Linked DNA regions of Homo sapiens: regions 2, 3 and 4 are each linked to region 1. The links come from fine-mapping of genetic effects on gene expression. A gene starts in region 1. Each other region holds a variant in brackets. All regions are shown on one strand. Distances are between the middles of the regions.

Region 1 (8,101 bases):
GACGGGGTTTCGCTGTGTTGGCCGGGCTGGTCTCCAGCTCCTAACCGCGAGTGATCCGCCAGCCTCGGCCTCCCGAGGTGCCGGGATTGCAGACGGAGTCTCGTTCACTCAGTGCTCAATGGTGCCCAGGCTGGGGTGCAGTGGCGTGATCTCGGCTCGCTACAACTTCCACCTCCCAGCCGCCTGCCTTGGCCTCCCAAAGTGCCGAGATTGCAGCCTCTGCCCGGCCGCCACCCCATCTGGGAAGTGAGGAGCGTCTCTGCCTGGCCACCCATCGTCTGGGATGTGAGGAGCCCCTCTGCCTGGCTGCCCAGTCTGGAAAGTGAGGAGTGTCTCTGCCTGGCCGCCCATCGTCTGGGATGTGAGGAGCCCCTCTGCCTGGCTGCCCAGTCTGGAAAGTGAGGAGCGTCTCTGCCCGGCCGCCACCCCGTCTGGGAAGTGAGGAGCGTCTCTGCCCGGCCGCCCATCGTCTGGGATGTGAGGACCCCCTCTGCCTGGCTGCCCAGTCTGGAAAGTGAGGAGCGCCTCTTCCTGGCCGCCATCCCATCTAGGCAGTGAGGAGCATCTCTGCCCGGCCGCCCATCGTCTGAGATGTGGGGAGCGTCTCTGCCCCGCCGCCCCATCTGGGATGTGAGGAGCGTCTCCGCCCGGCAGCCACCCCGTCCGGGAGGGAGGTGGGGGGGTCAGCCCCTGCCCGGCCAGCCGCCCCGTCCGGGAGGTGAGGGGCGCCTCTGCCCGGCCGCCCCTACTGGGAAGTGAGGAGCCCCTCTGCCCGGCCACCACCCCGTCTGGGAGGTGTACCCAACAGCTCATTGAGAACGGGCCATGACGACAATGGCGGTTTTGTGGAATAGAAAGGGGGGAAAGGGGCGGGGAAAGATTGAGAAATCGGATGGTTGCTGTGTCTGTGTAGAAAGAAGTAGACATGGGAGACTTTTCATTTTGTTCTGTACTAAGAAAAATTCTTATGCCTTGGGATCCTGTTGATCTATGACCTTACCCCCAACCCTGTGCTCTCTGAAACATGTGCTGTGTCCACTCAGGGTTGGATGGATTAAGGGCGGTGCAAGATGTGCTTTGTTGAACAGATGCTTGAAGGCAGCATGCTCGTTGAGAGTCATCACCACTCCCTAATCTCAAGTACCCAGGGACACAAACACTCTGCCTAGGAAAACCAGAGACCTTTGTTCACTTGTTTATCTGCTGACCTTCCCTCCACTATTGTCCTATGACCCTGCCAAATCCCCCTCTGCGAGAAACACCCAAGAATGATCAATTAAAAAAAAAAAAAAATTTTTTTTAATTAGCCGGGTGTGGTGGTGCACACTTATAGTCCCGGCTACTGGACAGGCTGAGGCGGGAGCATCACTTGAGCCCAAGAGTTGGTGGTTACAGTGAGCTATGGTCGCACCACTGCCCTCCAGCCTGGGTGACAGTGTGAGACTCCACCTCAAAAATGAATAAATAAATAAATAAATAAATAAATAATAAACCTCAGGGAACTCTGCTGCAGACCTCCAATGAGAAGGCCACTTATAAAGGTGGCAACAAGTTTAGGAGAAAGAAAACCCACCCAGCTGGGCGTGGTGGCTCATGCCTATAATCCCAGCACTTTGGGAGGCTGAGGTGGGCGGATCACTTGAGGTCAGGAGTTCAAGACCAGCCTGGCCAACATGGTGAAACCCCGTCTTTACTAAAAATATGAAAATTAGCTGGGCATGGCGGCGTGCGCCTGTAATCCCAGCTTCTCGGGAGACTGAGGCACGAGAATCGCTTGAAACCCGGAGGCAGAAGTTGCAGTGAGCCGAGATCGCACCACTGCACTCCAGCCTCGGTGACAGAGTGAAACGCCATGTCAAAAAAAAAAAAAAAAAAAAAAGGAAGAAAGAAAAACCCACCCAATGTCCCAAATGCCATTAGAGAATCGAGGGAGGGTGTCAGGAAAGATACCAAATAGAAACACCTTCTTCCCTCCATTCCAGTAAGAGTTAAATGTGACTATATAAACTGAGAAAGACACCACCACTTGAAATAAGGATGTGCGATACCCAGGCTGCGGATCTTTTTACAAGAAGGAATGTGTCTGAGACTATACCTCAAAGCCACACAGGAGGATACCAGCAGTAGGCGGGACAAAAGAATTAATCCATTGGCTTTAGCCAAATTCCCACCCTCCAGCTCTGAATGATTCTGACAGGGATTCTTAGGCAAATCTCTCACTGCGTGTGAGACGTGCAGGTTGATGGGGTCTAATGGATCAGGATCCAAGCCTGGAGGGAGGACGCCTTGGTGCACGCTGGAGTTCTCAAGATCACAACTGAGCTGATGCCAACAGATCTCAGAGCCCTGGAAGTCACGGGACACTCCTCTCAGACCCGTGGGCATTCGTATACAATCACATGTATTTACATATGTGGGACTAGCCTCCAATGCAGTTTACAAAGTGCTATAGAGATAATACTTGCTTTATGCAAAAGTTGTTTCTGCATTTGGCCTTGGCCAAACCTCCCTGGGGATTTAAGAGCTGCATTCCACTCCACTTACAGGTTTTACACAAAGACAAGAGAACCATGGGCCACCCCAGTTCAAGCGCATCTGACTGGGCTGGGCAACACACCCACATCCCCCAGTCCTGGGCTACCTCACAAAGAGGGGGAACAAGACCTCTCCTGAGGGCTACCCCAGAACCCTGAAGTCCACCAGGGTGGATCTGCTGACGTCCCCACCCAGGGCACACCATGGGGGTGGGTGTGGGGAGAGGGGCAGGTCTGGACGAGGCCGGTGATTCAGACCGAGCAGGGCTCCAGGAGAGCTGCCAAGTCCCGCGGGGGCCGTCCTAAGAAACGTAGTAGCCGGGCAACCCTGCCTGCCAGCCGCCTGCGCTCAGGCGCCTTCGGATGACCCGAAGCCACCTCGAGAGTTTGCACCTGGATCCCACGGTCACTACTCAGGCTACGACCTGACCTGGGCAAAACCGCACCAGGCGGCTCCCTGTCCAGCCCATGGGAGCCGGGGCGCATTACCTGGAGAGGCAGCGTCGCCCCTCTGCGCTGCCCACCCGCCCTTTTCCGCGGCGGCGCTCCGCAGCTGAGGTGGAGCTCGAGGTAACCCTCTCCCAAGCGATCGCTGGTGGCGGGGGCGGCGACCGGCGGGGCGGGGCAGGGTACTGCCAGCCAATTCCGAGCACCGGGGGGTGCGTGCGCCCGGGGCGCGTGGAGCAGCGCCAACCGTGCACTCACCAACCCACCGACCCTCCCCAAAGCCGGGGACACAGGCGTGGCTCCAGGTGGCTCTCCTGGCGCCCCCAGCACGGGCGCCCCCATGGCACTGGAGATGCACGGAAGAGAGAGAAGGAGAGAGAAAGAGATAAAAGCAGAAAGAAACAGTGGGAGAGGAAGGAGGTAGAAACAGAGAAAAACAGAGACATATATATCGAAAGAGAAAACAGGACAGAGAAATAGGTTATTAAGTGAAGCGAGGGGATAGGAATGCATAGCAAGGCGGGAGAGGAGATGGAAACATGCAGAGAGAGGAGATCCGGACGGTGAAAAGGGGCGGAGGCGCGAGCGGCCGGGTCCCTGGGCTGCGCTCCGGCGACGGCCGCCCGAGACGGGTGTCGAGGACAGGGATCGCGGAGGATGTGGATCCCCTCCCTGGCCTGCCCAGGCGCGCGCGTCCCTCCGTCTCGGGGTACGCAGCCCGGCCGGGCGCACTCGCCGTTTCCGGGCCGGCGGGGCAGCCACCGGGACAAGGGCCACAGCGCCCCCGCCGCCCGGCCAAGGACGCGCAGCCCGCGCCTCCGCCCCGCCCCGCCGGCGCGACCCGCACGGGCGCGCCCCCCGCAGAGGGGCGTCGGCACAAAGCCGCCCCACACAATGGCCCGGCCCGGCGCAGCCCGCCCTGCAACCCGGCTCCGCGCAGCTGCACTCACATCTGGGCAACGAGGGCCTGTGGTCCACGGGCACCCAGATCTTCTGCACTCGGCTCTGCGTCAGTTCCAACGGCATCTTCGCGGCTGCGCCCGACGGCCCGCCTCCCGGGGCCGAGATCCCGACGCTGGCAGGAGAGCGGCCGCCGACCCCCGGAACAAAGGAGGAGAGGGGGGCGTGCGCCGGCGCGCGGCCGGGCGTTTCCTGCGCTGCCAGGGGAAACGTGCTTTGGGCTAAGTTCCGGACCCTCGCCTGTGCGGGGCTCGACGTGTGCTGCGAGGGTAGCGAGGCTGGGGATGCCCGGCACGGCCGGCTCGTCCGCTCGGAAAGCTCTGGGATGCTCGGGCGCAGTGACAGCCGCGCTCTCGCCACCAGGCCCTGCTGCTCGCCTCCTCTCCGGCTTGGCTGGGATGCCCCGCGCACCGCCGGCTTTTAAAGAGTCCGGGCTGGCCGCAGACGCGTACGTCAGCCTCGGGGCGGGCCGCATTCCTTGGGTCCCAGCCCCCTTCCACGTGGGGAGGAGGGTGGGCGAGCCGGGAAGCAGCCTGCGAGCTCCCCCTGCGGGCCGGCGACGGCGGTGCACCAGCTCCCGCCGCCCTGCCCCGGGCCTGGAGCGCGCCCAGCCCTGCTGAAGGGTCCTGGCTGCTGTTATCCCCTCGTCCCGTTGTCCCCTCGGGACGTCTGGCACAGCTTCCCCGACTAATTCCGGCCCCTCACCTCAACTGTGCTGGCCGGGAGGAGAGCAGAGACGCAGTCCTGCCCAGTGTAGACCGTGGACCCCGCAGCCGAATCCCTTGGGAAGCTGCTTAAAGTGCATCCTACCAATGCAGCTCCTTTAGGGCCATGGAGCCCCAATACTCTGCATTCCTAACACGCGCTGTGGGGCAGGCGCAGTCCAGGTAAGGACATGGGCCAGGCTGCTCCCTGATAATACCCGTGAGCCCATCCCCCGCCACGACCCGGGCGACCCGCGGGGAGGAGGCTTCCCTGATCCTCCCACCTCACCTCGTCCTTGTCCACTTTGCTGAATCCCTTAGAAACCTGGACTTGAACTGAGCCTTGCTCCCCTCCCCTAGCCCAAAGACTGGGAACCTTGAGAGGCCCGCGGTGCTGGGTACGAGGAGGGGGCGGGAAAGCCCCGGGGAGCTGGACTGAAGTGGACTGGGGCTGGGGGCAGCTGGCATCTGGTTTTCACACTCACCATGTACACCATTCAATAAACCTTTATCGCCCCGAGTAGAAGAATGAATAAAACTAGACCCATTTCGATCTGCAATTCATTACCTAAGTCGAGGGAAAACTATTGGGGGCGGCCCCTTATTAGGCAGACTCCTAAAATTCACTCCGTTATCCTGCACACCCTGCAGCTCTGCCTCCCCACTTTTTGGTGCATGCGTGCCCCGTCTCCTTTCCCGGCCCTCGCAGTTTGCACCAGCTCGCGACTTGTGACAGTCGTGCAGTCAGGTCAGAGGCGTGCGGGGAAGATCTGGGTTGCTTTTGGTGGGGAACCGCCGCCCGCGCCGGGACGGATGTAACTTTTGCAAACGAAGCCTCAGTACGGGAGCGCTGCGCCGCCTTGCAGAGAGGTGCACACTTAGCGCTGAGGCTGGGCTGTGATTGGAGGGAAGGCGGCGCTCGCTGAAACCTACACCGCGGCGGAAAAGTCTGCGCAGAGGCTGCCACACGTCGCTCACGTCCCGCATGCTCCACAGGGAGGGCGCCCGCGCCCAGGCGGCGACCGGGGCTGCTCCCGCCCCGCGCGCCCGCCCCACCCGGGCCTCCACTCCTCCCGACCCGCCGCCTGCCGAGGGGCCCCGGAACGCGCAACATCGGCCACCTGGCCTGTGCCCCGCCACCCTCCCCCACGCCTCGACCCCCACTCCCCCTCCCGCCTCGACCCCCACTCCGGCACCCCGCCCCCCGCGCCGCCCTCTCAGAGCCCCTGTTCCCGCGACAGCTTTGCTGACGGTCTGGTTTCCGCGCTCTGGCGGCTGTTCAGAAACCCGATGCGTTGCATTTGGACTTGTTTTCTGCAGTGGGAGCACATGCCAGAGGCGACACCCTAAACGCCCAGGGGAGAGTCCCACTCCACTCCTGAAATAAGAGTGGGCTGACCCGAAGAGGGAAACAGCAGGCAGCGAGCGCCCGCGCCACCGGGACGAGTTCCCGCCCTGGGGTTCGCGGGGGTCGGGGAGGGCTGTAGGCTGCGCGCGGGGAGAGCGGCTGCACCCCTGCAAAGAGCGCCCGCGGTTCCTGGGGAATGACGGTGCACCTGCGCGCCCGCTGCTTGCCCACCGATTTTGCACACGTACAGGCGAGGCAAGCGGACCAGGGGGCCTTCTTCCACACTCCCTACAAGCTTGCAAACACTGCTGGTTTCAGCTCACAGGGAGAGCAGAGAGACGGCGTCTGCCCCAGCAGCGGCACATCATTCATCTCTTGACCTAGATAACGCATCTGACAGCGGTCAGCTCTTAGGGCACAGGGAGTTGATGTCCCGGAGGTCCAGCTGAACTTTCGCAGACCGGGCACTTTTCCTGTCTGTCAATAACGCGTTCCGAGTCTAGAGGGAAGACTATGTTCTTCCCCCATTCGCCTCCTGCACTTGCTCTGCAGCAGGCAAAAGGAAGTTAACTCAATCCCCGCCCCACCACCACCCCCCGCCCCCCCCCCCCCCCCGCTCCTTACATCTAAGTGCAAACTGGGAGTGCGTGGGAGCAAGGACGAATGCACACCTGTTTTTGTTTTTTTAATGGCCAGCTAGAACTCCTGGCAGCCTTTACAGCCCCAGGTAAGTTAGGGTAGAGCCCTCATGAGAGATGAAACTGCTTCACTACAAAATCACTTATAAACAACCCAACTGCAACTGTATTCTGGTAATTTACTGGTTCCGAGTTTACTAGTTTGGACATCCTCCTAACTCATTCCCTAGCTCTGCTAATGCCCCATCTTCACCCCAAATGTCCAACTAGGGCTTGGCCAACTTCCCTCCTACTAACCTGGGTATCACAAAGGCGGCCCTTCAGAAAACGCTCCCAATAACGTAAATGTTCCTCTAATACGATGATTCTTTTACAGCTACAATAACACCAAGGCTAGCGCAGATTGATGATTTCTCCTAGGTCGTGGTCCTAGAAACTATGAAAGATAGAAGGAAACTTCAAGACTACCTAGTCAACCCCACTTGCTTTATGGGAAGAAGTAAAGGGAGTTGAGATTAGAGTAGTCAAGGAACCAGGTCAGAGATCAAAGAAGAAAGCCAATTAGGAGCAGAGTTTGCTGGGGTTTTTGTTGGTTTTGTTGGTTTGTTTTTGTTTTTCCCTTCTGCTTGACACGGACGCAGATAGCTAGCTCCCTAGGAGACTCATTATAGGGCCACCCTAACCCCAGGGTGCTGAGTGGAATCCTAATTTAGCCGCTGATCAGGCTGTGATTCAGACTCACCTAGAACAATTGAGCTGTTTGGGAAGGAAAGGTCAGAGAAGGACCTTCCGTGAGTAGAATGAGACATTAGCAGGGCAATTATTGAAAATGATCCTGGCCAGTGCAGTGGTTCGCACCTGTAATCCCAGCACTTTGGGTGGCTCAGGCGGACGGATTGCTTGAGCTCAGGAGTTAAGAGACCAGCCTGGGCAACATGAAACCCCATCTCTGCAAAAAAAAAAAAAAAAAAAAAAAAATTTAAAAATAGCTGGGCATGGTGGCTCGCACCTGTGGTCCCAGTTATTTTGGAGACTGAGGTGGGAGGATCACCTGAGCCCAGGAGGCAGAGGTTGCAGTGAGCTGTGATTGCACCATTGCACTCCAGCCTGGGTGACAGAGTGAGACCCTGTCACAAAAAAAGAAAAAAAAAAAAGCAAGTGCCTGGTGAGGTGCTCACATAGCTGAATTCACTGAGCTCGGTCCAGCCTTGAGAGGACAGTGGAGTGGTTTTTCTCCAGGATCACCTTTGTTCCCACACTTCTGTGCCAGCCAATGTCATCTAACTCCTACCAGTGCTTCCAAATGCTGCTGTAACAACAAACACAAGCAACCGCATTTCCGTGATCCTGTGCCAGCCATAGCCAGGTTAAAACGTTCAAACCAAGCTAGGACCTACCCGCTGCCCCAGAGAGAGTGAGGTGACAAGCATGGTAGTCTGGGAGCAATCAGAAGTTGCTCATTAGACACCA
Region 2 (8,101 bases), 70 kb before region 1:
GTATCACATACAATATGATTCCATTTATGCAACATTCTGAAATGACAAAATTACAGCAATGGGGAACAGGTTAGTGGTTGCCAGCAGGTGGGGAGGAGAAAGGAGGGAAGGTGACTTGAGGCTCTAGAGGGGTAGCATGAGGGAGCCTCCTGGTGATGGAGCAAAATCAAGATATATCTTGATTTGGGTGATGGTTATAAGAATCCACACATGTGATAAACCTGCCTACAACTACACACACACACACACACACACACACACAAATACATATAAAATGGGAAATCTAGGTAGGTTCTGTGACCCAATCTCAATATCATGGTTGTGATATTGTACTGTAGCTATGTAAGATGTCACATTGGGAGAAACTGAGGGAAGGGGACAAGGACCTTCCTGCACACTTTTTGTTTGCATCATCCTTGAATCTATAATTATGTCAATTTTTTTTTAATTGAATTACTCCTCAAGTTTTTTCCTTTATTGGAGGCTATTTAACCCCACTTGCAGCTGCAACATCTCAGCTGTTGCCCAGAGAAAGCGAAGTTCATTGGTACTTGGCCGACCCCAAATTGGAGTTATTGTAGCTAGTAGTTAGATAAGGCCAGCAATTAATCTGTAACTATCCTGTCTGCAGCTAAATGATAGTCTCCCATACAGAGATTTCTCTTTTTGGCATTTTTTGGTTTGTTTCTTGGGATTTTTTTTTTTTCTGAAGCATGGCCCTTTTATGAAATAGATCCATAAACACATTTTCCACTTTCATACATTTGCTAAGTTATGATCTAAAATATTTTTATGACACATACATATAAATAAACAACAACCCCTCCCATTCTAGGCCATGTTTCTGTTTGAAGAATTATCCCATTTGTTATCCTATTTCTATAGCATGCCACCCATGAACCTGATTCAAAGGCCAAAATCCCACAAAATAAAGATAGCATTTGGCTGATAATCCACTCCAAGCAAACAAAGCCTTCTCTTGGGTCAGTAGAAGTTTTGGTTCTGTTTTTACCAAAAATCCTCTCATTCCCTAAAGACAGACTCTGTCTTTACGCAGTCTATTTGTCAAATACAAGGTGCCATGAATTGGGAGACATCTTGATTTCAAGCATGAAATAGCAAGCATATTTCGAGGAATGAGATACTCCAGCATGAAGAAAGCCTGTCTCCGAATGGGTGGGCTGCAGAGGGAGCACCACCCTCCACATGGAGAAAGCATAACCCCTGCGTGTATTTGAAGAGCCATATACCCCTTAAGCCATTAAAAAAAAAATGTTTCATTCTTGATGATGTAATCCTCTCTATGAAAAATACAAAAATTAGCCGGGCGTGGTGGCCCATGCCTGTAATCCCAGCTACTCAGGAGGCTGAGGCAGGAGAATCCCGGGAAGCGGAGGTTGCAGTGAGCCAAGATCGCACCACTACACTCCAGCCTGGGTGACAGAACGTGACTCCATCTCAAAAAAAGAAAAAAACCCACAAGATCCAAACCAAGGTTTCCCTTTTGCACAATAAGAACGCGTGTGGGGAACAATTGTGTGGTTCTTTGCACTGCCCAGATGAGCTCATGAGAAAATTCCCAGCAAGAGCAGCGCCTGGGTGATGGCGGTGAGTCACCGGCAGAGGCCTGACTCCATCACAAGGCTGGGGACAGCGTTCCCGGCATGCAGTGTCAGCTACTTCCTGGCATGGAGTGTCAGCTACTTCCTGTCTGAGTCAGGCGCAGGCCCCGAGGGTGGCTCCGCTGAGGGAACTGGCACCTTCTCCACACACCTCCTTCGCCGAGTCACAGACAAGCTATGCAGAGAAATCTACCGGAGCCACGGCAAGGCTCTGGAAGAGGACAGAGAAGGGAGCAGCTTCCAGAGGCCACATCGGTTTGTCGCCATGACAACAGAGGGGCGGGGCCGTGACCACCTGCCCCTGGCACAAGGCCCCCAAGTGCCGAAGGGTCACTGAGTCTTAAGCAAAGAGCAAGAGGCATCAGCCTCATGGGACAATCCACCCAGAGTCGCCTAACCACAGACCCCAAAAGTCCCCTAGTGGACACCACCCAGTCCAGGAACAGATCAAATTCAAGAATATGTAAACTTGGGTGGGAAAAAAAATCTTTTCCTCCACTAGCCAGGAACTAATATTTAGCATTTTCATTATGAAGATAGGCAGCATACCACATGAGCAGCCTCTGTGTCGGTCACCAGTAAAAATCATAATATGTTCATGGCACATGATGGTTATTGCAGTTTTGTTTTTTGTTTTTTTTTTGAGACAGAGTCTGGCTCTGTCACCCAACCTGGAGTGCAGTGGTACCATCACAGCTCACTGCAACCTCGACCACCCGGGCTCGAGGGATCCTCCCACCTCAGCCTCCAAGTTGCTCGGACTATAGGCGTGTGCCACCACACCCAGCTAATTCTTTTTAGATGGGGTCTCACTATGTTGCCCTGGCTAGTCTCAAACTTCCGGGCTTAAGCAATTCTCCTACATCAGCCTCCCAAAGTGCTGGGGTTACAGGCATGAGCCACCACACCCAGCCTGTTGCAGATGTCTTGAAAGAGTATTTACCCTTCATCTCTACTGTGAAATTACGGTTGTTTTCAGACTTGCCACTATTGAATGCATTATTAAAGTGGTACATATATTTCTACATCGTAAATGTTTATATTTGGCATTTTGATATCAGTATTTCAAGAGTTCTCTCCTTCGTAATCCAAAGTGTGTTATTTTTTAAATGTAAACATTATTCTAAGAAGGGGCTCAGGATCAACCCTGGAGGACCAGAGGGGCTACAGCACACACAAAAAAGCTTCAGTACACTGTATTAGTGTGCTGAGGATGTCGCAACAAAGTACTTCAGATGGAGGGACTTACACAACAGTTTTTTAATTTTTTTTTTTTTTAGAGATAGGATCTCGCTCTGTCACCTAGGCTGGAGTACAGTGCTGCAATCATAGCCCACTGCAGCCTTGACCTCCTGGGCTCAAGCGGTCTTCCCCTTCAGCCTTCCAACTAACTGGGACCACAGGTAAGTGCCACCAGGCTCAGCTATTTTATTTTTTGTAGAGACAGGTCTCCCCATGCTGCCCAGGCTGGTCTCAGTCTCCTGGGCTCAAGTGATCCTCCTGCCTCAGCTTCCCAAAGTGCTGAGATTATGGGAATGAGCTGTCGCACCGGCCCACAACAAAAATTTATTTTCTCCTGATTCTGGAAGGTGGGAGTCCAAGATCAAGGTGTCGGCAGGACTGGGTCCTTTGAGGCTG[C/T]GGGAAGGAGCTATCCAGGTGTCTGTCCTTGACCTGTAGTCAGCTGTCTTCACTCCCTCTTCTCATCACCTTCTCTCTGCATGTGCCTGTCTCCAAATTTCCCTTTTTTATAAGGACATCAGCCATACTGGATTAAGGCCCATCCTAATGACCTCATTTTAACTTGATGGCCTCTGGAAAGACTTTTCTCCAAATAAGGTCACACCCTGAGGTGCTGGCGAGTAGGACTCCAACGTGCTGTTTTTGGCAGGGATGCAATTCAGTCCTTAACATACTCCAGTCCAATCTCCATGCTTTCCTTAGAGAACCCTCAAGCCCAGAGTGACTGACAGAACTGTCAACAGAACACAGGTTTCCCGACAGCCCCCTCAAGGTTTGAAGGGCTTTATACACTGTAAAGGGCCGTGCGATTGTAGGTTGCATGGCGGCGGGGATCCCTTAAAGAGCAGGCGTTCTCGGGAAGGCAACGCTTTTCACCCACGGGTGGCAAGCTCCTCGGGCCCCAGAAGAGGAACGGGGAAAACTCCAGGCCTCATTTTTGTTTGTTTTACTTTTGGTGGGCAGCTGCTTCTAGTCACATCTCTAATTTCACGGCCATCATGAGAATATGGATCACATCTGTGAGGTGGGCCCAGCAAACCCCGTCTCTACTGAAAATACAAAAAAATTAGCCGCACGTGGTGGCAGACACCTGTAATCCCAGCTACTTGGGAGGCTGAGACAGGAGAATTGCTTGAACCCGGGAGGCAGAGGTTGTCGTGAGCTGAAATCATGCCACTGCACTCCAGCCTGGGCAACAGAGTGAGGCTCCACTTCAAAAAAAAAAAAAAAAAAAAAAGCCTGCAATCTCAGCCCCACTCACTGCACAGGAGACATGTGAACACTTTAGGAGAATGGGAAGTATTTTCTTTTCCTTTATTTTCCTCTGAGACTTTCTCTATAAATCAAGCCCTCAGGCCTATTGTCCAAATCTGAAATAAAGCCTGCCTCCTCCATCTGACCCTGTTCTCAAGAGACCTGAAATGAAATCTTCCCACATAGCCCTTGGCATGCACAGATCCAGGATATGGAACAGGGCTGACGGAAACTCATGAAAGCACAGCGCGGCTGGGGCCCAGGTCGACCTATTTCTTTTTTCTTTTTTTTGAGACAGAGTCTCCCTCTGTCACCCAGGCTGGAGTTCAATGGCACGATCTGGGCTCACTGGAACCTCTGCCTCCCGGGTTCAAACAATTCTCCTGCCTCAGCCTCCCAAGTAGCTGGGATTACAGGCACCCACCACCATGCCCAGCTAAAATTTTTGTATTTTTAGTAGAGACGGGGTTCACCATGTTGGCCAGGCTGGTCTCAAACTCCTGACCTCAGGTGATCCGCCCGCCTCGGCCTCCCAAAGTGCTAGGATTACAGGCATGAGCCACCGTGCCCAGCCAGACTGACGTATTTCAACACGTTGGCCAGAATGCATAAATCCAAGGCATCATTCAGGGTTTAGTTAAGAAACCCCGATGTCCTAATAGGGCAATTGGAACGATCACCTTCACTAGACAGCCTGGAGTCAAGGGAGGGACACAGGAGACCATTACCTGCAAGTCCTAAGGGACAGAAGGGACATTTATCATCTCCCAGCACTGCCTTCATCAGCCATTCACCAAACTAGACAGTTACAGCCCCTGTCTGTGAACTCGGGGTGCTTTGCACTTGTTCATAACATACAACATACATGCACAATGGCAAGTAAGCACGTATGTAATGCTTCACATCTGCCCTCCCTGCTGGATGGCAGCCACCATCGGGGCAGGGGCAACTGTCTATCCCACCCTCTGGTCTATCCTCAGTGCTAAGCACAGATTCCCACACATGGTAGAGATTGGTAAATATTCCCTAAGTAAATAGGTACCTGCCTCTCCCACTTCCACACCCACCCTCTGATAGCCTATTGCCCTTTTGCAATACTTCTTCCCATTCAAGGTTGAACTAGGATTCATTTCAATTTAGCTTTAAAAATATAAATACATGCCCACAGTGTGGGGGAGAAAGCACACACAGATACCCATAGGCTCCACCCTCCACCCACGGGAGAAGGCGCTGTGGCTATTTGGGGTCACAGTATCCTGTTACCTTTATTGAACATTCACTTTTTATCAAAGGTCTGAGGTACACTGTCTCATTTATTCTACACAACCTTAGTTAGAGACTCATAGGCTTGGGGCTTGAACATCTTGTCCAAGATCACACACCTAGAGAGTACTGAACCAGGACTGGAGCTAAAAGAGGTCTGATTCAAACACTGGGCTTCATCAGCTCCCTGTGCTACCTGCCCGGAAGTGGCTTCATTACTCTCAAAGAATTCGGCTTCCCAGCCCTTCCGCAAGCACTGCTACCAGGCTCTTCATCCTGCCATTCAATAGACACATCTGAAGTTTGACTTCCCGCCTCTTGGCTCCCACACCCCCAGGAGGCAGCTGTCAGAGTCCTTCAGTGGCTAAAGGAACGTAGCCTGGGCCTCCCAGGCATCACACACGCACCAGGAAATCATAAATTGAAAGGTAACGCTCTTCGGTTCTCGTCCTTACCTTAGCAGAGGTGTTGGAACAAGGCTGACATTTACAATGCACAGGAGCTTGGCTACTTCAGCAATTGCATGGCCACTGGTGTTCTGGAAGAATCCATTTAAATGCTAGACACATTTTCTCTTGGCACTTGAAACTAGGTTCCAGACGGGGGAAGTGGTTGAATACTAATTACTTGTAGCAAGGCCATTGGAAGAGCATCTTTCACTTTCTTTCCCAATTTCAATAATCTGTTCCTGAATGCTTCTTATCCAAACCCACGTTTCAGAAAACAAGTTTAAGAACTGGGAAAATCTACAGTTAGGATGAAATGAATAAAAATGTCTTTCCTTCATTTATTTGGCAAATATTTAGTGGGTGCTTACTATCCCAGGCAGGGGGCTAGATCTTGGGAAGAGAGTGCTGAGTCAAAACTGGCCCAGTTCCTACTCTCAAGGTGCTTAAGTCTAGTGAGAGAACGGGCATGAAGCAAATAATGACACCAATAAAGGTGAAACTGCAACTCTGGGTGTCCTACAAAGGAGGCATGTGGTCCGATGAGCGCATGTCATAGGGCCTAATCTAGCCCGGAGGGTGGGAAGACTCCTTGATGCCATGACACCATCTGATGCATTAGAAACCACCTGGTAAAGAGGGAACCGGACCCTTACTATCCAGAGGAAACAGCAAGCACAAAGGTGTTACATGGGAGGGAGTGTGCAAAAACAAGAGTTCAAGAAAGCCTCTGTGGCCGAGGAGTGTAGGCTGAGCTGAGGCTAGAGAGACAGGCAAGAACCAGATGCCCCAGGACACGGTGAGCTGTGGTTAGGACGTGTGTCATTAAACGCAAGAGCAACAGGAAACCATTGAAGGGCTTTTAAACCTTGCATGACACAATCAGTTACCTCAAAAATATTCCTCTAGTTTCTTGGTAGAAGAATGAGTAATATTAGGTAACTTATACTTCTCATATGAAATGGGAAAAAGAAGGCATCATTATCTCCGTGAGAGATTTGTGGAGAGGGAAAGCAACTGGTTCCGGGTCGTAGCTCACCAGAAAGTAGAGCACAGAATTCTTGTCCCATGTTCCTGAGTCTTAAACACCCATATTCTTTTGTTGTTGTCGTTGTTGTTGTTTTGTTTTGTTTGTTTGTTTTTGAGACGGAGTTTTTGCTCTTGTTGCCCAGGCTGGAGTACAATGGCGCGATCTCGGCTCACTGCAACCTCCGCCTCCCGGGTTCAAGCAATTCTCCTGCCTCAGCCTCCCAAGTGGCTGGGACTACACGTGCACACCACCACACCCAGCTAATTTTTGTATTTTTAGTAGAGAGGGGGGTCTCACCATGTTGGCCAGGCTGGTCTCAAACTCCTGATCTCAGGTGAGCCACCTGCCTCAGCCTCCCAAAGTGCTGCGATTACAAGCGTGAGCCACCACACCTGGCACCATTTTCAAAATAAATAGATAAAACTGTGTCAGATAGAGTCACATCATATGGCCCTCTTCATTTATGCATTCTGACATGCTGACTTCTGAAGTTGTCCAGGTACAAAATAACTCAGTCAGTGACCAGAAATATGAGCCATTTAATGTCTACCCCTGGGAAGAGTTAAGTCTTACTGCCTCCTCTCTCCACACACTAAACCAATTTCTCTTCCCATTTCTCCACCCTAAGTCACTTCCACTTTCCTAACTGCAACGTCTTACCTATGGCAAAGCCTATATTCACTGCATTTTCCCCATGGCCTCATCACACAGATAACAGACCCCGGAATCTGGAAAAGGGAAAAAAATATATGTATGTGTTGCTCCTTAAGACAAGACCAAATCATCCTATCCAGGTGCAGTGGTGCATACCTGTAGTCCCAGCTGCTCAGGAAGCTGAGACAAGAGGATTTATTGGGCCCAGGAGTTCAAGACCAGCCTGGGCAACCATCTCTGAAAATAAATAAGTACATAAATCATCCTAGATCACTGAGTCTATAATTCAGTCTTAAATTTGTTTAGGAAAAGTTATTTATGTTCTTGGTATCTCAGTATCTTTATCTAACAGCTGAAAAAAAAAAAACGTAAAAATAATCTGCTTGGGCATATAGGGAAGTAAAAATATACTGAAGAATCGCCATTCAGGGAAGATGAAGACCCAGGGAGGGGAGCCCATGTTGACAACTACTGTTTTAAAAAGCAATTGTCATTTCTACATACTAGCAGTAAATAATTAAAAAATGAATTTTTAAAAATCTTTAACTTTTTTTTTTTTTTTTTTTTTTGAGACAGGATCTCACTCTTGTCTC
Region 3 (8,087 bases), 140 kb before region 1:
CCAGCCAGCTTGCATGTCTCTTCGTTCCTCCCCTGCACCAGGCTCCTTCTTGCCACAGGATCTTTGCACATGCTCTGGCTTCTGCTTGGAAAGCCTTCTCTGTCTCCTCCTCCCTCCTCCCATTCCTTGGTTAACTCTTAGTCATCCATCATCACAGCTGCAAAGTCACTTCCCTAGGGAAGCTGTCCCTTTTTGCAGGCTGGTCAGCTTCCTCGGATCTAAGCTGTTAAAAGTTCTGTGTATTTTCCCTTCTCTACACTTACCATAGTTGACATTTTATTTTTGCTCTGGGATTATTTGGTTAATGTGCTAGAATCAAAACTCCAGAAGGGCCAGAACACTATGGCTTTTTTTGTTATCACTATGTTCCCAGCACTCAGCAAAAGAAAAATAAAAAACCAGACCCTCATTGTCACCTAATGGTGGTACTGTAATTCTCTCATTCCTTCCAAATGTATCAGCTGAATTTTTCAATAAAGAAGACATTTCCCTTATCAGCTCTTCCGTAACTGTGAGGTACAGTTTATACAAGAAAAGCAGAATAAATGCTTGAATTTTCCCCTTCTATTTACCAGTTTTCAGAATAATCAGAGGTGACAGACTCCTCCAAAGGTAACAAATGAGTTTGGTTTTACCGTTTTGAGTATTATGAATTCATGGATGTATACATGTTGATGTGTTTCAGTCCACTAAAGTCATTATTCTTTGGGATGCTCAAATTGTCTCATTGTTGGCCAGTAGAAGCCTGGGCCCTTTTGCCATGACCTCAGTTGTCTTTAATAGCTGTCCGGCTTGTATGACAAGACATTCTTGGATCCCCTTGTACAGCTCCTGACACCAATCTGGTTCAGCTATTTCTTCAAGAAGGCCTGGTTCCTTGTACATTCTTATTCACCTGTGGTTTCAATTCCCTAGTCTCTAAAAGAAACACTACAAATAGAAATTCTGTTCTGATTTTTCTCCTGTACAGCGGACCTGTATACCTAACAGATGACTGGGCATTGCCATCTCTGCCCACAACACACATCCTGAATTTGACTTGTTTGCACATGAAGTCATCATCCCTCCCCAAGATGGGCTCTCTATTATGCCTTCCTTGGGGATCAGTACTTGGAGTCGGGTCAGGGCAAGATACTGTTAGTGACATGTGGAATTCAGCCACACCATCATGAGAAGGTCCTCTCTGTGTGTTCTGGCTAAACCAGCCTTCTACCAGGTTAGCACGATTCTGGGCTTTGCAACATTCATGACCTGTTTGAGGGCACTGAAGGAGATGCTCAGCCACATCCCTTAATTTGCATGAGCCTGTAGGAAAAATATGTTTAAGAAGTCTGGCTGTCTGAGCAGGCCAAAGGAGAAGATGGAAGAGAAGGTGGTTTCCTGAAAGCATGAAGCTGTATCTGTTCATATTTTGACACCATCCCAGGAAGAAGAGGCTGAGGTAGGAAAGTACAGTCAGCTCTGGGAGTTCCCTCTGGAGAAGCTGGCTATGAGACGTGGAAGAAGCTCCCCAGCTGCAGTAGAAGGCACGAGAAGGTTTCAGGCTTTCCAGGTGGGCGTAGAATGGGCAGCAGCACAGGCATAACCTGGAGTGGCACAGGTGCCAGGGAAGAGGGCAGACGCCATGCGTGACATAGCAAGGGGATCACACCGCATCCATTGTGCATGAGACCACTTTTCACCACCCAGGCGACTCAAGGAGATAACTGGATGGGTGGTTCCAGGAAAAGAATGGACATCCTGCTAGGCCATCATATGCTGTCTCAGAGCACTGAGGTTTGATAAATGTGGTGAATTTGGAGGCACTCACAGCTGAGTCCCAGCACAGAGTGGGCACATAAGCAACACCATTTTCTCATTGCCCAAGCCAGCCCCTGCCCACAGCACCTCCACTTCCCAGAGCCACACCCAATCAATGGCCAACTTATGATTCTAATCTTGAATGTCTGTCGAGATCTTTTCCTTCTCCATCACTAAGCTCTCTCCTTTAAGTAAAAATTTTTCTCCTGGAGGAATGCCTCCTGGCTGATGCTTCTGCAAATCACCTCACTTCTCTTCAAGCCCTCCTCTGTTACAGACTATTCCAAATTTTTTTTTGTTTTTTTGTTTTTTTGTTTTTAACTTTTGCCTACCTTGTCGGCTCACGCCTGTAATCCCAGCACTTTGGGAAGCCGAGGTGGGTGGATCACCTGAGGTCAGGGGCTCTAGACCAGCCTGGCCAACATGGTGAAACCCTAGCTCTACTAAAAATTCAAAAATAAGCCGGGTGTGGTGGTGGGTGCCCGTAATCCCAGCTACTCAGGAGGCTGAGGCAGGAGAATCGCTTGAACCCAGGAGGCGGAGGTTGCAGTGAGCCAAGATCGAGCCACCGCACTCCAGCCTGGGTGACAGAGTGAAACTCCATCTTAAAAAAAAAAAAAAAAAATGCCTACCTAAATCTAACGTAAAACTTTGAGCTCACTCTGAAATATATTCATATTTACTTACAAGGGGAAAATGCCCTATGAACTGAAAATTATGTGTATTTTAGAACATACACAAAAGAGAAGTTAAAAGAAAATGAGAAAAATAAATAGATGTGATAATACTTTATTTCATTACTCCGATTAATAGTCTTACCAAACTCACCCGAAGACTGCCTGCAAAGTTCTTGAAGGAGCTTGGGATTGTAGGTGCTTTTGATGTTTTATTCAGACTGGACTAGATGCTTTAACCCTGAAGGTGCATCTTACGTATCTAAAAAAGACTTCCCTTAGGGCTAAACATAACAGAAAAGTGATGAATGAAGGAATCTGTCCAACATGTCATCTTTGATTGAAGATAAATACATTCATCTTATGGTTCTAGCTCTATTAAATTGAGTCTGTTTAATACACCCTGTCTGCAGCTAAACTAATTATTTCAGGCTGGATTTTCAATTTCTTACCTAGCCCTAGGATAAAACACAGAGTTGAATGGTTACGTAATCACCAGGTGCCGCTCAAGTGGTGATTTTTCAAATCAAGTATGGATCTCAAAGAAGAGAAGCAAATAACAACAGAGATACTTCTTGTGCTAGGGCCCTGGTTGCAGGACGGTGTCCCACCAGGCTACAGCTCTTAAATGGCAGAGCTGCTGCTGACACCTCTGTCGTTCTTGCAAGATCAAATACCAACTGCGTTGACTTCAAATCTGGCTTAAAAATAGGCCTAGCAGGCATAGTTTTCTCATCAAAACAAATTAGCCTAAAAAATAGCATTCCGAGAGACCAAGGGTTAGGAAAATTGTCCTGTGAGTGTTTTGAATTCTTTGTCACCCTTCATAACTGGTGCCGTTCATGAGGGAGCTTATTGGCTTGGGGGATGACAACTTGAACAGCAAAACAGGATGTGTCACCACCAGGCCCCCTGCTCTGCTGCAATCTACGAGAATTAATCAGTTTTGGGTTTTTTTGTTGGTGGTGACGGTGGTTTTTTTCCTTTCTTTCTTCCTTTTTTATGTCAGCGTCTCAGATGGGCA[C/G]ACACTGAAACAGCTTCTTATTTGCATGCGGTGTGGCCTGGCGAGGGTGAACTGAGGACACGCAGAGCTCCCTCTGACTTGGCACCGGCAGGAAGTCGGCGGCAAGAAGCTACCACTTTTCAAGCCTGGGTGGCTTTTTCTTTTTTCTCTGTCATTCATTTTGGAAGAAAGCATAAGTTTGATTTCAAACAGAACACAAAAACTTGGAAGGAGGGCCAAACACAGGCAGGCAGATGATTCTTGTCCCCACTTTTACTTTTTTAAAATTTAATTGGAGATGCTGCAGAGGTGGCAGAAAGGGGCCAGAGGATGGTAGGTGCAGACTCGCTGCGGTGACAATGCCCCGGGCATCCCCTTTCTGCACAGTGGGGCACGGCATCCAGGGGCAGCCTCCTCTCCAGACACCTGGGCAAATCCAAATCTGTGTTTCTTTGTCATTCACCTGAGGAGAAGTCCCTTATTCCAACGACCACTCCCGTGTGAGCGGTGACAGGTTTGAGCAGAATGAGTCAACGCTGAAATGATGCCTGTGCCATTTCACAGGAATTTGCTTCTTTCTCGCTGGTTTTCAGATGCAGTTCGAGGCTTCCGTTTTTTTCTCTGGATTTGAATCTCGTCCACAGATCACTGCTGCCTTGCAGCTGAGTGTGTCATTTGCAGCCCTGCTGTCTGGGGCCCGAGACTCCACACAAGATGTGCTCAGAGAAGCAAATGAACAACTCTGCTCTGATAGGGGCAGCAAAGAGGCAAGCAGCTACCAACAGAAGGACACTGAGTTTCTGGGGGTGGCATCTGGCCAAGGTTCCTGTCATCTCTCTCAGATAAAACACCAAATTCTTCCCCAACAGAAGCAGCAAAAACATATAATATAGGCCAGCGCAGCGGCTCACACCAGTAACTTATGCCTTGGGAGGCTGACGGGGGAGGATCACTTGAGGCCAGGAGTTGGAAACAAGACTGGGCAGTATAGCAATATCCTGTCTCTACAACAAAATTTTAAAAATTAGCTGGGCATGGTGTTGCATGCCTGTAGTCCCAGCTACTTGGAAGGCTGAGGTGGGAGGATCACTTGGGCCCAGGAGGTCAAGGCTGCAGTGAGCCATGATTGCACTACTGCATTCCAGCCTGGGTGACAGCGAGACCCTGTCTCAAAACAAGACAAACAAATAAACAAAAAAAACCATAATGTAGAGTATTTATAAGTTGCCTTATTCCAAGGAACAAAAAATGGTGGGAAACTATGACAGTATAATATGGTATGTGGTAATATTTAGCTATGTCTAAAATGTCACTTTGATGAGCAAGTTTTATCATTTTTATACTCATCCTAAATTATTTGTTTCCAAATCAGAGTGCAATGGCCCTTGGGAACTGGGAAAGAATGTCTTCCCAGACCTGGAGGAAGCTCCAAATGACTGGATCCTAATGATTCTACAGGTTCCTGGCTTTTCCCAGCAGTCCCTGCCCCCTGAGTCACCCTTCCTATAAATATCCCCATCCCACAAGATAATGGTCTTTTCAAATTTCATTAAGTTTTTGTCTCTTACCAAATTGCTCTCTATACTTTTAACAACGTTTCATCACCTGAAGAGCTTTACGGGGTTCGCTAACCCCCTTGCCTCCTCACTAGCTAAATATCTCATCTCAGATATCCCTTGAACTTGTACCTCTGCAAAATTAAAACGACTACATACTATGGAACGTCTTGAAGGTCAACACCAAAATACCACATCCTTTGAAGGGCCAAGAGTACACGCTAACCTATGTCGTAGGACAAATTTATAACCTGGTGATCCAGAAAAGGACCATCCTCTAAGATGGGGGCTAACCTGGCTTTCCCCTGTGTGGTCATAATACCTGGAAAAGACATGATTTGAAAGGTGAATATATTTGAATTGCTACAATAAGCCACAATCTAACAAGGGTCCATTTCTATTGGCCATGGAGCTTCCATTTCATTGGGATTTGCCACTCTGGTGATGTCCTCTTACCCAACTGACCCAAAGACTTTTAACATCACACTTTTTTTTTCTGGGCTTTTAAAGCAAGTTTTTGAGGCCAGAGTAAATCATGATAGGCTGTACAAAAGTCTTTACCTGGAAGCCCATCAAATATATATTTCTATAAGATCTGTTTTTATGTTTGTGCAATCAGCGTGTGTTGGCTGGAATGAATTCTCTATTTGTTTGTCATGTGGAAGGATAACCCATGACAAGCCAGCCTAGCAAAGTGGTTCAGTGTGTTGGGTTCTTTGGAACCACATAGACACTTCCAACCTTATCCTGCATTTAGCTCTTTGACCTTAGGCAAATTACTTTATTATCTTTAGCCTCATTTCTTAATTTGTGGAGTGGAGATAACAAGGCTCATAGGGTTGTTGTGAAGATTATGTATTTAAATTGTGTAGCCGCAGTGCTTGAAACAACCAATAAACAGACGATTGAGAGAGAGAGAGAAGATAGATGGATGGATGGGTGGATGAACAAATGGATGGAAGGATGCATGGATGGATGGGTGGATGGATGGATGGATGGATGGATGGATGGATGGATGGATGCATGGATGGATGGATGGATGGATGGATGGATGGATTAATGGATGGATGAACAGATGGATGGATAAGTAGATAGATGTATGGATGGATGGATGGATGGATGGATGGATGAAAATGGATGGATGGATGGATGGATGGATGGACAGATGGATGGATAAGTAGATAGATGGATGGAGAGATAGACAAATAGATGGATAGGCATCAGCAAAAGAAGAGTTGCTACTTCTGGGATCTGATACTGAATGACTTGAGACAAATCTTGTGATCTGCCAATATCACAGGGTCATATGGAGCAACTTTGCTCAGATATTGGCAGCAAAAGGCCAGCAGGCACAAACAGAAGGACACTGACTTTCTGTGGGTGAGAAAAGGGGAAAAGAGAAAAGAAAAAAGGGGAGTGGGGCTAAACAAATTAAATGATATTTAAGGTCATTTTCAATCCCCTGATTCTGAGAAAACAGGACTCTGAAGTGTTTGAGCACACTGAGAAGGGCATTTTGTTAACGACACTACTGTTTATTTTTGACTGTTTAACTTTCACCACAATACACTCTTTCATGTAGATTCCTCTTTGCCTTTTTTCTCAGTCTAATTCCTTGAATAAGAGTCCTATGTGAAGACCTAGGCTTGACTAAGAAAGCTTGTCTTGCAAGCAGGCTAGTCTGTATTGCCTAGTCTCCTGAATTATCTAGAAATGGCTTTTGTCTGCTATAAGCAGAGACCCAAAGTAAGCATGGCTTAATCACATTATGGGATGACTTTCTTTCACATGGCATGGTCTGAGGAGAGATGACCAGGGAGCATAGGAGGGCTCCACATTGTCAGCAGGAACCAGGTACCCTATATCATTCTGCTCCACCACCTTCGGCTGTGGGATTTTGTTCTCCAGAACTCACCTCATAGGCACAAGATGGCTGCTGGAGCTCCAGTCATTCCACTTCTTTGCAGATACAAAAAAGGAGAAGACAGAAGTACAAAAGGTCACTTTTTCCAGCTGGGTCAGCCACCTTCACAAAGCCTTCCCAGAATCCCATCCAGTGACTTCCACTTACATCTCCTTGGCCACAATTCCAGCAAGGGACACTGAAATATAGGCTTTTAGCTGGGCACGTGTTCACCTTCCTGTGATAGCAACAGTAGGGAAGAATGGATATTGAGGAGGCAAGTAACAGCCTCTGATACAGCTCCTTCCCCGAAAAGCCCTTGTAAAAGGCCGGGTACCCTGTGACAGGTTCTCCACCTTGCTCCATGGGCAGCCTGCATCCCTGCCTACCCCTTTCCACTGTCTTTCCTCCTCCCTGGTTCTTATAAGCAATCCTAGCTCCTCAGAGGCAGCCCTCTAGCGAGGCTCCATCTATAGAGCTTGACTTTAGACTTGGCCAAGCTCTGCTTCACCTAAATAAAGGCATCATCTCAATACTCTCTAAACTCATCCTCCCACTCCCAATGGGAACAAGCACATGGAAACAAACGCAAGGGGAGGGAGAAGGCGGTCTCTATCCTTGCTTCCGGGATGGCATTTCTACCAGTGTCATCACAGTCAAACATGGGTGGCAGTTTCCTTTTCTTAGACCTCCCTCAATGTGTGACATGCCCCATGGCCCTTTCATAACTAGGAGGAAAAGTCCACATCTTGCCAGTGAAGAGGAGGCCACAGCCTCTGCCAGGGGCTCCCTTTCCCCTACCCAGGAGGTCACGATGAGATTGGGGATCGCAAAGCCAATGCTGCTCTTGCCCACAACCCATCAGAGTCCTCTCTTGCAGGCTTTGCTTTGGCATAGGGAGGGTGCCTGCTTATTAAGCATCCAGATGAGCAAACTCTGCCACTGCAGTTCTCCACCCAGCAGCTGGGAGCCTGACAGCAACCAGATGGAACCAGGCTGGGCAGGAATAGGGAGGGGCAATTCCCTACAAGGCTGGCCCAGAAGACATGGCTGCAGAAGACTGCTGGCAAGTCCATAGCTGAAAAAGATCCCATGTCATACTTTGCTGCAGAGTGCTCTCTGCAGAGTCCCCGAATCACATTGTAATAAAG
Region 4 (8,101 bases), 71 kb after region 1:
AATGGGCTCAGATGGCTCAGAAAAAAAATACGCACTCGCACATGATACACACACACAGAATGATTTAGCAAATACATAGACAACTGGTGAGGAACAATTGGTCAGTGTGGGAGAAGAGGATAGAGGTGTTTTTCAGTTTGAAATTGTTTCAAAATAAATGCTTTCAGGGCCGGCATGGTGGCTCATGTCTGTAATCCCAGCACTTTGGGAGGCCAAGGCAGGCAGATCACCAGAGGTCAGGAGATCGAGACCATCCTGGCTAACACGGTGGAACCCCATCTCTACTAAAAATACAAAAATTAGCCGGGCATGGTGGTACACGCCTGTAGTCCCAGCTACTCAGGAGGCTGAGGCAGGAGAATCATTTGAACCAGGGAGGTGGAGGTTGCCGTGAGCTGAGATCGCACCACTGCACTCCAGCCTGCGCAACAGAGTGAGACTGTGTTTCTAAAACAAAACAAAACAAAAAAAATGCTTTCAGGAAAGAAGAGACAGCTGTGCTAATTTACATCTACTGAACTTCAATACATGTGCAATTTAATGCAGGGGATGTTCGTTTACTTTCTATTGCTATGTAGTGTTCTTTTTTTAAAAAAACAAAAAAACACACACACACACACACAGAAATTTTGTGGTTTAAGCCCCACCCCTTCATTAGCTCCCGATTCTGAAGGTTAGAAGTCACACTGCCTGCCTGTGGCTCTGCACAGACCTCGCCCAGCGGAGATCAAGGTGCTGACTAGCTGAGTTCTCATCAGGAACCTCTGGAGAAAACTCCACTTCCCAGCTCCTCCTTGTGGGCACAATTCAGTTCCTGTGGAGTGGGAATAGGGTCCCCATTTCCTCGCTGGCTGTCAGCGGGGTCACTCCTAGAGGCCACCCTCGTTCCATGCCACGTGGCTCCTCCTTCCGCAGGGGCAAGGGCAGGTTGGATCTTTCTCGTGCTTTGAACACTGATGTCTTCTTCTGGGTCCTGCAGGAGAAAGCTCTCTGCCTTAAAGGACTCCGGCCCCCAGCAATCTCCCATCTTACAGTCAACTCATGGGGACCTTAATTCCATCTGCACAGCCCTTCCTGGCAGCTCCTAGGTCAGAGCCGAGCTGAACACCTGGGAGGAGGCGCACACACGGGCCCAGGAACCTGGCAGCAGGCTGCTGGTGGGGGGCATGGGCTCCCCAAGGGCCCACGGTTGGCCTGGCCCAGCCCTAGCACAGCTGGTGTGCTGTGTGCACTCTTTCTGTCATCCTCCCCTCAAAACGCAGCTCCTACGTGCTGCCCTGGCTCTGGGGAAAGGTGATGAATTATCCTTTCTCCTCCATTCAGCTGAAGTTTCAGACATCAGGATTTCTCTCTAGGGAGAGGCTCTTTTCTTCTCTGTGGTGATGTCCCCGACAGAAGAAGAAGAGCGTTGTGTTGATTGTCCCGCCGTCCTGGCAACTCCACAACCAGGGGAGCAGGACAGTGCCCAGGACCCACAGGTCGGGCAGCCATCCCTTCCTTCATAAGGAACGAGGGGCCACAGGGAGGCTGTAGAGTCCGGGAAAGGCTCTTGCCAGCTGTTCACAGCGTCACTTGGGGCCTCCACAGCCCGCTGAGCCCAGGACAGTGTCACAGGGGAGACGGAGGCCCTGAGGACCCCAGAGCCGTCAAGCACGCTCAGCTGTTCCCTGTCCACTCTCAGAAAGCCCAGCCCCTGGCAAATATGCAACAGGTTTATTTTATTTTATTATTTTTTTTAATGTTGCAAAGAACCTTCATATAATTTTTTCCATAGCATCCTGACAAACTCTGGATTCAAGCGGAGGCAGCATTCACCCATTTCTCTGCCGACAAAGCTGGCCTCGGCCAGGGTAGTGACTTGCCCGGATTGCTCAGCCAGACCAGGGGCAGAGCCCCAACACCAGGTCTCCTGGCCGGCGCTGTGTCTCCTCCCGCCTCCATCCTCATCCGAAGGTTGGGACGTCACAGTCCTTGGAGGCTCGCTTAGCTGGGAACTGAGGACCTTCAATTTCAATGTACTGAGTCTTCATGACCTGCATAAGGCCGAGGAGCCTGGCTGCCTCTTTCCCAGAAATTAGTCTCAGTCTCCTGGGCCAAGTGGTTGCTTTCTACTGCATTGCGCTCCTGGAATCCTGGAATACGCTGCTGAATTCTGCAGAGGAAATCAGAGTCATGGTGACTTCAAATTAATCACATAAGCACTCCCAGAGAGAAACGGGATTCTCTGTGGTGGGGCTGCACTTTGCTTGTAATGAGGACGCTTTAGAGGCCAAACTAAACCAGGCGGGAGAGCCAGGCCGTGGGGGCGGGGCGGGGCCTCTGCTCCGGGCACTCCCTTCCTCCACCTGTTTCCTCACCTGTAACATGCAGACAGTGTTCATCAGTGGCCAAATGTGAGGAGCAAATGCCCTTTTTTTTTTTTTTTTGAGACAGTCTCGCTCTGTCACCCAGGCTGGAGAGCAGTGGCACAATCTCAGCTCACTGCAACCTCCGCCTCCCAGGTTTAAGCGATTCTCCTGCTTAACAAAATAGGATTCTCCTGCTTAACAAAATAGATTTTTCTCCAGCTCAGGCTGGAGTGAATTGGCGCAATCTTGGCTCACTGCAACCTCCACCAGGTTCAAGCGATTCTCCTGCCTCTGCCTCCCGAGTAGCTGGGATTACAGGCATGTGCCACCACACCCGGCTAATGTTTGTATTTTTAGTAGAGACGGGGTTTCACCATGTTGGCTAGGCTGGTCTCAAACTCCTGACCTCAGGTGATCTGCCTGCCTCAGCCTCCCAAAGTGCTGGGATTATAGGCGTGAACCACCACGCCCGGCCTGCACCCAGCCTATTTATTTATTCTTAACTTTAACTTTTTTTGCAATAAGCCTTTTGCAGTCCTACATTTATTTATTTTTAACTTTTATTTTAGGTTCAGGGATACATGTACAGATCTGTTATATGGGTAAATTGTATGTCACAGGGGTTTGGCGTACAGATTATTTTGTTACCTAAATTATAAGCATAGTACCCAACAGGTAGCCTTCTTTTTTATTATTTTTTTTAAATTTGAGGCAGGGTCTTGCTCGGTCACCCAGGCTGGAGTGCAGTGGCATGATCATGGCTCACTGCAGCCTCTACCTCAGGCAATCCTCCCACCTCAGCCTCCCTAATAGCTGGGACCAAGGGCATGCAGCATCACATCTGGCTAATGTTAAGTTTTTGTAGAGATGGGGTTTCGCCATGTTGCCCAGGCTGGTCTCAAACTCCTGAACTCAAGCGGTCTGCCCTCCTTAGCCTCCCAAAGTGCTGGGATTGCAGGTGTGAGCCGCCGCGCCCGGCTGACAGATAGCTTTTTGGTCCTCACCCTCCTCCCACCCTCCACCCTCAAGGAGGCCCCGGTATCTGTTGTTCCCTCCTTTGTGTCCTTGTGTCCTCAGTGTTTAGCTCCCACTGA[T/C]AAGCAAGAACATGCGGTATCTGGTTTTCTGTTCCTGTGTTGGTTCGCTTAGGATAATGGCCTCCAGCTCCATCCATGTATAACTTTATTTTATAATACAGAAAACATCGAACAGTCATTGTTAAGGAAAACTTTGATGACTGTTCCCATTCAGAAATTTATTTATTTAAATGTCCTTGAAATTTTTTCTTTTGGAGACAGAGTCTTGCTCTGTCACCCAGGCTGGAATGCAGTGGCGTGATCTCTGCTCACTGCAACCTCCACTCCTGGGTCCAAGCGATTTTCCTGTCTCAGCCTTCTGAGTAGCTGAGACTATGGGCAGGCGCACACCGCCATGCCTGGCTAATTTTTTTATTTTAGTGAAGACAGGGGTTCACCAGGTTGCCCGGGCTGGTCTCAAACTCCTGAGCTCAGGCAATCCGCCCGCCTCAGCCTCCCAAAGTGCTAGGATTAGAGGCATGAGCCAACGCACTTGCTGCCTTAAAATTTTTAAACTGCATTTATAATATTAATACTTTATACTTTTAAATACTTTAATTTATTCACAAGCATTCTCAAGTGCTTAACAACTAACTCTGGCGAATCTCTGGTTTTTTTAAATGTTCCCATACTGCCTACAATCTTAATAAATTGGCGTTGAATATCTGAGTTTAAATCACAAATCTATATCAATTACCCAATCACATATTTTGAATTGGAATCAAGAGGCCAGTCCATTCATTGCATTTAAAATTACAAGTTAAAATATGCCACATCCTCTTAAAACAGCAACTTCTTAAAATATCAAATATGTAAAGATTGCCTAAACGTAACCCCAAAATATCAAAAGTATGAGTTGGTTTCACACTCCTCTGTGTAAACAGACTTTTCCAGGGTTAAGAGAGACTTATCCGGTAAAGAAACAACGATGTCATTACCAGCAAGTCTGGGGTCCTGTCCCAAGGAACTGAAGTTGCTTATTGACCGGGACAACCCCTGCTCAGGACCCAGAATTGAATTCTTGCCTGTAAAAGGGACAGAAAATACGGAGGCCTGTTGGAGCTCTTATAACAGGAGCTCCTGGCCCCCCACGGGGAAGGGGTCCCCAGCACGCTTGCTTCCAGACCTGCTGACTCTCCTTCGAAGACCATGGTGGTCTCAGGGGGTCAAGAGCCCACCCGTCCAGGTGCCTGGCTGGTTGGCTTGGGACACCCCTGGCCCAGTCACACCTCAATTCAGGTGACAGTCCAGGAGCTGTCAGCAGACCCCCTCCTGGGAGTGTGGAGAATGAGCATTTCTCTATCCTTGCCAAAAAGCAATCTCAGTTAGGGCAGATGCAAGAAAACCACATCATCTTTCTCTCCCTGTGGGGCAAGAGCTAGCTTTATTAATTCTGGTGTACAAATTAGTCATTGCTGTCATTCCAGCTAAATCGAGGTCAGCTTTCTCCCAATTTATGCTGAAATTAGCAAAGACCCTTCTGATTTGACAGTCAAATGGGAAGGGAATTGATGGATCCCAGCACAGAGGTTGAAGGTGAGAGGCTGCAGGCATCCCAGGGTGCCCTGCGCTTCTGTTGCAGTCTTTTTTTTTTTCTTTTTCTTTCTTTCTTTCTTTTTTTTTTTTTTTTTGAGATGGAGTTTCACTCGTTGCTCAGGCCGGAGTGCAGTGGCATGATCTCGGCTCACTGCAACCTCCGCCTCCCAGGTTCAAGTGATTCTTCTGCCTCAGCCTCCCGAGTAGCTGGGATTACAGGCACGTGCCACCACACCTGGCTAATTTGGTATTTTTAGTAGAGATGAGGTTTCCCCATGTTGGCCAGGCTGGTCTCGAACTCCTGACCTCAGGTGATCCACCCCCACCCTCAGCCTCCCAAAGTGCTGGGTTTACAGGTGTGAGCCACTGCGCCTGGCCTTCTGCTGCAGTCTTGATGCCACGTGCTTTACTCCCTGTCTCAGAGAAAGAAAAAATTTTTTTGCTCTTTCCCTAGAAACCAAGAAAAGTAGGTTAATCAGACAAACAAGTGGTAAAGATAAAAGACTCCCCCGCTCCCCACTGACCGCACCACACACACACACTCACAATCACACAGACACACACACACACACACACACACACACACACACACACTCCTCCAGGTCCTGGCTCTCCTCCTACTGCCCCAGCAGCTGAGCCTGCAGCTCTCCCTGCTCCCACCTCCACCTCAGGGGCTTGGACTCCTCTGCCCTCTGCTCACCTTCCCCATGGCTGCCCAGTCATCCCCAACTGGCAACATTCACTGTGATGGGAAGGGCACAGGCAGCTCAAGACTAAGTCGCTTCAGGAAGACGGGAATCCCCCTGTTCACACCACAGAATGAGGTTTCCTGTGTGCAGAGGAGGAGGAGGGCTGGGAAGAAGAAGCTGGAGACAGGAAGGAATGACGTGCAAATGATGTGAAGAGAAACGACACTTCTAAGTCATCAAGAACAGAGTGCTAAGGGGAAAGAGGTCTGTACTAGAAAATGAAAGATTTGGATTACATGGAGAAATTTTCTGAAAGTGAAATCTGTTACAAATAGATTTGGCTGGCCAGGCGTGGTGGCGCACGCCTATAGTTCCAGCACTTTGGGGGGCCGAGGCGGGCAGATCGTCTGAGGTCAGGAGTTCGAGACCAGCCTGGCCAACATGGCGAAATACTGTCTCTCCTAAAAATACAAAAATTAGCCAGGTATGGTGGCACACACCTGTAATCCCAGCTACTCGGGAGGCTGAGGCTGGAGAGTCACTTGAACCAGGGAGGTGAAGGTTGCAGTGAGCCGAGATCGCGCCATTACACTCCAGCCTGGGTGACAGAACAAGACTCTGTCTCAAAAAACAAAACAAAACAAGAAAGAGAAAAAGAAAAAGAAAAAGAAATGGCTTCTGGGATATAGGATCTGCAATGCATGAAACCACAGCCTGGCTTTCTGTCCCAAGCTCCTGCGCTGCCGTCTACACTCCTGGTTGTTCAGGCCCCTCCTAACAGCTGTGTGTGCATGTGTGTGCATACCACGCAGATTGCGTGTGGCTCTGCATGTAGAAGTTCAGGCATCAATAACAGGACTGCTGGAATTATTTTAGGTAGGGAGGCCTCCTCAGTGCACCCCAAATCTCACCCCCTGGGAAGATCACTAAGCTGTTAACATGAAACCAGTGTTGACTGAAAAATGTTCATCAACTTCACCTAATGGTTTTTGCTGATGGGGTAGAATCTTATCTTTCGAGTGTGTTTGCACCCTTCAGAAATGCTTTCGGCTACATGTAAATGAGAACCTGACTCATGGAGGCTTAAACACATTGGGATTTGTTTTTCTCACAAAACAGGAAGGTCTGGAGGCAGCAGCAGTTAATCCTGCTTTGAAGGCTGAATCATGTCAAGGACAGCCTCTGTAGCTCCTGCACCCTCTTCCTCAAGGCTGCAGCTGGGCTGCGGTAGTGGCATCACGCTGCATTTGGGATTCGGGCAGCAGCGTATGTCCCTTTAATCCGGAAGGCTCAGCACTCTCGGAACTCCTCCCCACCCCCAGTGGATGTCTGCTTGCGTCTTCTTGATTAGCTGCAAAGTGGTGCTGAGAGAGAGCAGATGGAACGTTTCTGAAAAGTTAAATACAAGAAAGGGTTTGGGAATGTGAATCGGGTTGGTCTTTTCCCAGGTCAGCCCCAGTGCACCTCTTTCTAGAGAACACACTGCCCCCGCCAAAGGCTTGGAGGGCCACCCTCAAGACCACCTGAGCCATGGCATCCACCTTCCCGAGTCCTGCATATCCAGATGAGGTGCAGGCGTCCGCCTGGGGTCCAGAGGGAGCTCCTCATGATCCCACCAGCTATAGCCCAAAGACTTGTAGTCCATCATCAACACATGCAGTAAGGAATGGTGGAAGAGGAAACAGACCATTGCAATACAATCCCCCTTCAGAAACTCAGAGGATGGGAAGACAAAACGAGTCACACGCAAGATCCCGCTGGAAGGAGCAGTGAGGTCTCCCTGCCCTGGCGATACAGCAAGCTCCCCAGTGAGCCAGCCTGGCACCTCGTATCAGACCTTCCCACTGACTTCTCTGGTCTCTGGGAGGGTCCTCCAAGACCTCATCCAAGCAGGGCCCTGGGCGGGACACCCCTGATGGAGAACATAGGGTTTTGCAGTTCAGTTCTTGAGTATGGGTTCAGGGGCTGCAGATGGCTTCACGGCCTGAACAGACAGGGGCTACTGCTAGCCAGCCTGAGGGCTGCTTTGTTCTTTGTTGCTGTTTTTGAGATAGGGTTTCACTCTGTTGGCCAGGCTGGCGTGCAGCAGTGCAATCATAGCTCACTACAGCCTCGACCTCTGGGGCTCAGGTGATCCTCCCACCTCAGCCTCCTGCATAGCCGGGACCACAGCAGGCATGTGCCACTGCACCCAGTTAATTTTATTTTTTTTAGAGATGGGCTCTCACCGTGTTGCCCAGGCTGGTTTCAAACTCCTGGGCTCAAGTGATTCTCCCACCTTGGTCTCCCAAGGTGCTGGGATTACAGGAGTGAACCACTGCACCCTTTGGTTTCTTGGACAATGTAATTACCTTACACATCTAGCTGTAAATTCCTGGTCTATTCTGTTTGGTCCCATGCTCAAGCAGCCATAGCAAAGGCCTTCTCTCCACACATCATCCAACCTAACACCTTC

Which allele goes with the higher level. Alleles are on the strand shown, and positions count from the first base shown. SD is a standard deviation of normalised expression in the study named. Not every link is listed here.
For the expression in amygdala of the gene that starts at base 4,336 in region 1, allele C in region 2 goes with a higher level than allele T (large effect, 1.3 SD a copy in GTEx).
For the expression in testis of the gene that starts at base 4,336 in region 1, allele C in region 4 goes with a lower level than allele T (moderate effect, 0.53 SD a copy in GTEx).

Evidence for each region. PIP is the estimated chance that this variant, and not a neighbour inherited with it, causes the effect.
Region 2: its variant is fine-mapped to the expression of PFKFB3 in amygdala (GTEx, PIP above 0.99).
Region 3: its variant is fine-mapped to the expression of PFKFB3 in CD4 T cells (BLUEPRINT, PIP 0.95). The same link has a PIP of 0.9 or more in monocytes.
Region 4: its variant is fine-mapped to the expression of PFKFB3 in testis (GTEx, PIP above 0.99).

What each region holds. Positions count from the first base shown.
Region 1 is chr10:6,199,167-6,207,267 of GRCh38, reverse strand. It overlaps PFKFB3 (6-phosphofructo-2-kinase/fructose-2,6-biphosphatase 3), which reads right to left and starts at 4,336. Exons shown (of 15, transcript NM_004566.4): 1 at 3,932-4,336. The coding sequence starts at 4,007. PFKFB3-AS1 (PFKFB3 antisense RNA 1) reads left to right here and starts at 4,511. Exons shown (of 2, transcript XR_007062045.1): 1 at 4,511-4,828. RefSeq lists enhancers at 2,365-2,867, 4,607-5,111, 5,666-6,182, 6,183-6,700, silencers at 3,184-3,263, 3,494-4,003, 4,124-4,233, 4,284-4,613, 5,644-5,863 and a cis regulatory region at 4,142-4,673.
Region 2 is chr10:6,269,000-6,277,100 of GRCh38, reverse strand. It overlaps a transcript of PFKFB3 not described here. Among named protein-coding and RNA genes, the nearest start is that of LINC02649, 53 kb to the left of the region's middle. RefSeq lists enhancers at 1,407-1,846, 1,997-2,106, 6,390-6,439 and silencers at 4,929-5,129, 6,569-6,769. The variant C/T (reference allele first, on the strand shown) is at 3,261.
Region 3 is chr10:6,343,642-6,351,728 of GRCh38, reverse strand. LINC02656 (long intergenic non-protein coding RNA 2656) reads right to left here and starts at 1,413. Exons shown (of 1, transcript NR_148966.1): 1 at 1-1,413. RefSeq lists a cis regulatory region at 3,219-3,719. The variant C/G (reference allele first, on the strand shown) is at 3,499.
Region 4 is chr10:6,127,735-6,135,835 of GRCh38, reverse strand. All of the region lies in intron 1 of LOC101928080 (a long non-coding RNA gene), which reads left to right. Among named protein-coding and RNA genes, the nearest start is that of MIR3155A, 20 kb to the left of the region's middle. RefSeq lists enhancers at 606-1,153, 1,154-1,702, 5,639-5,718, 5,729-5,808, 5,859-5,908. The variant T/C (reference allele first, on the strand shown) is at 3,443.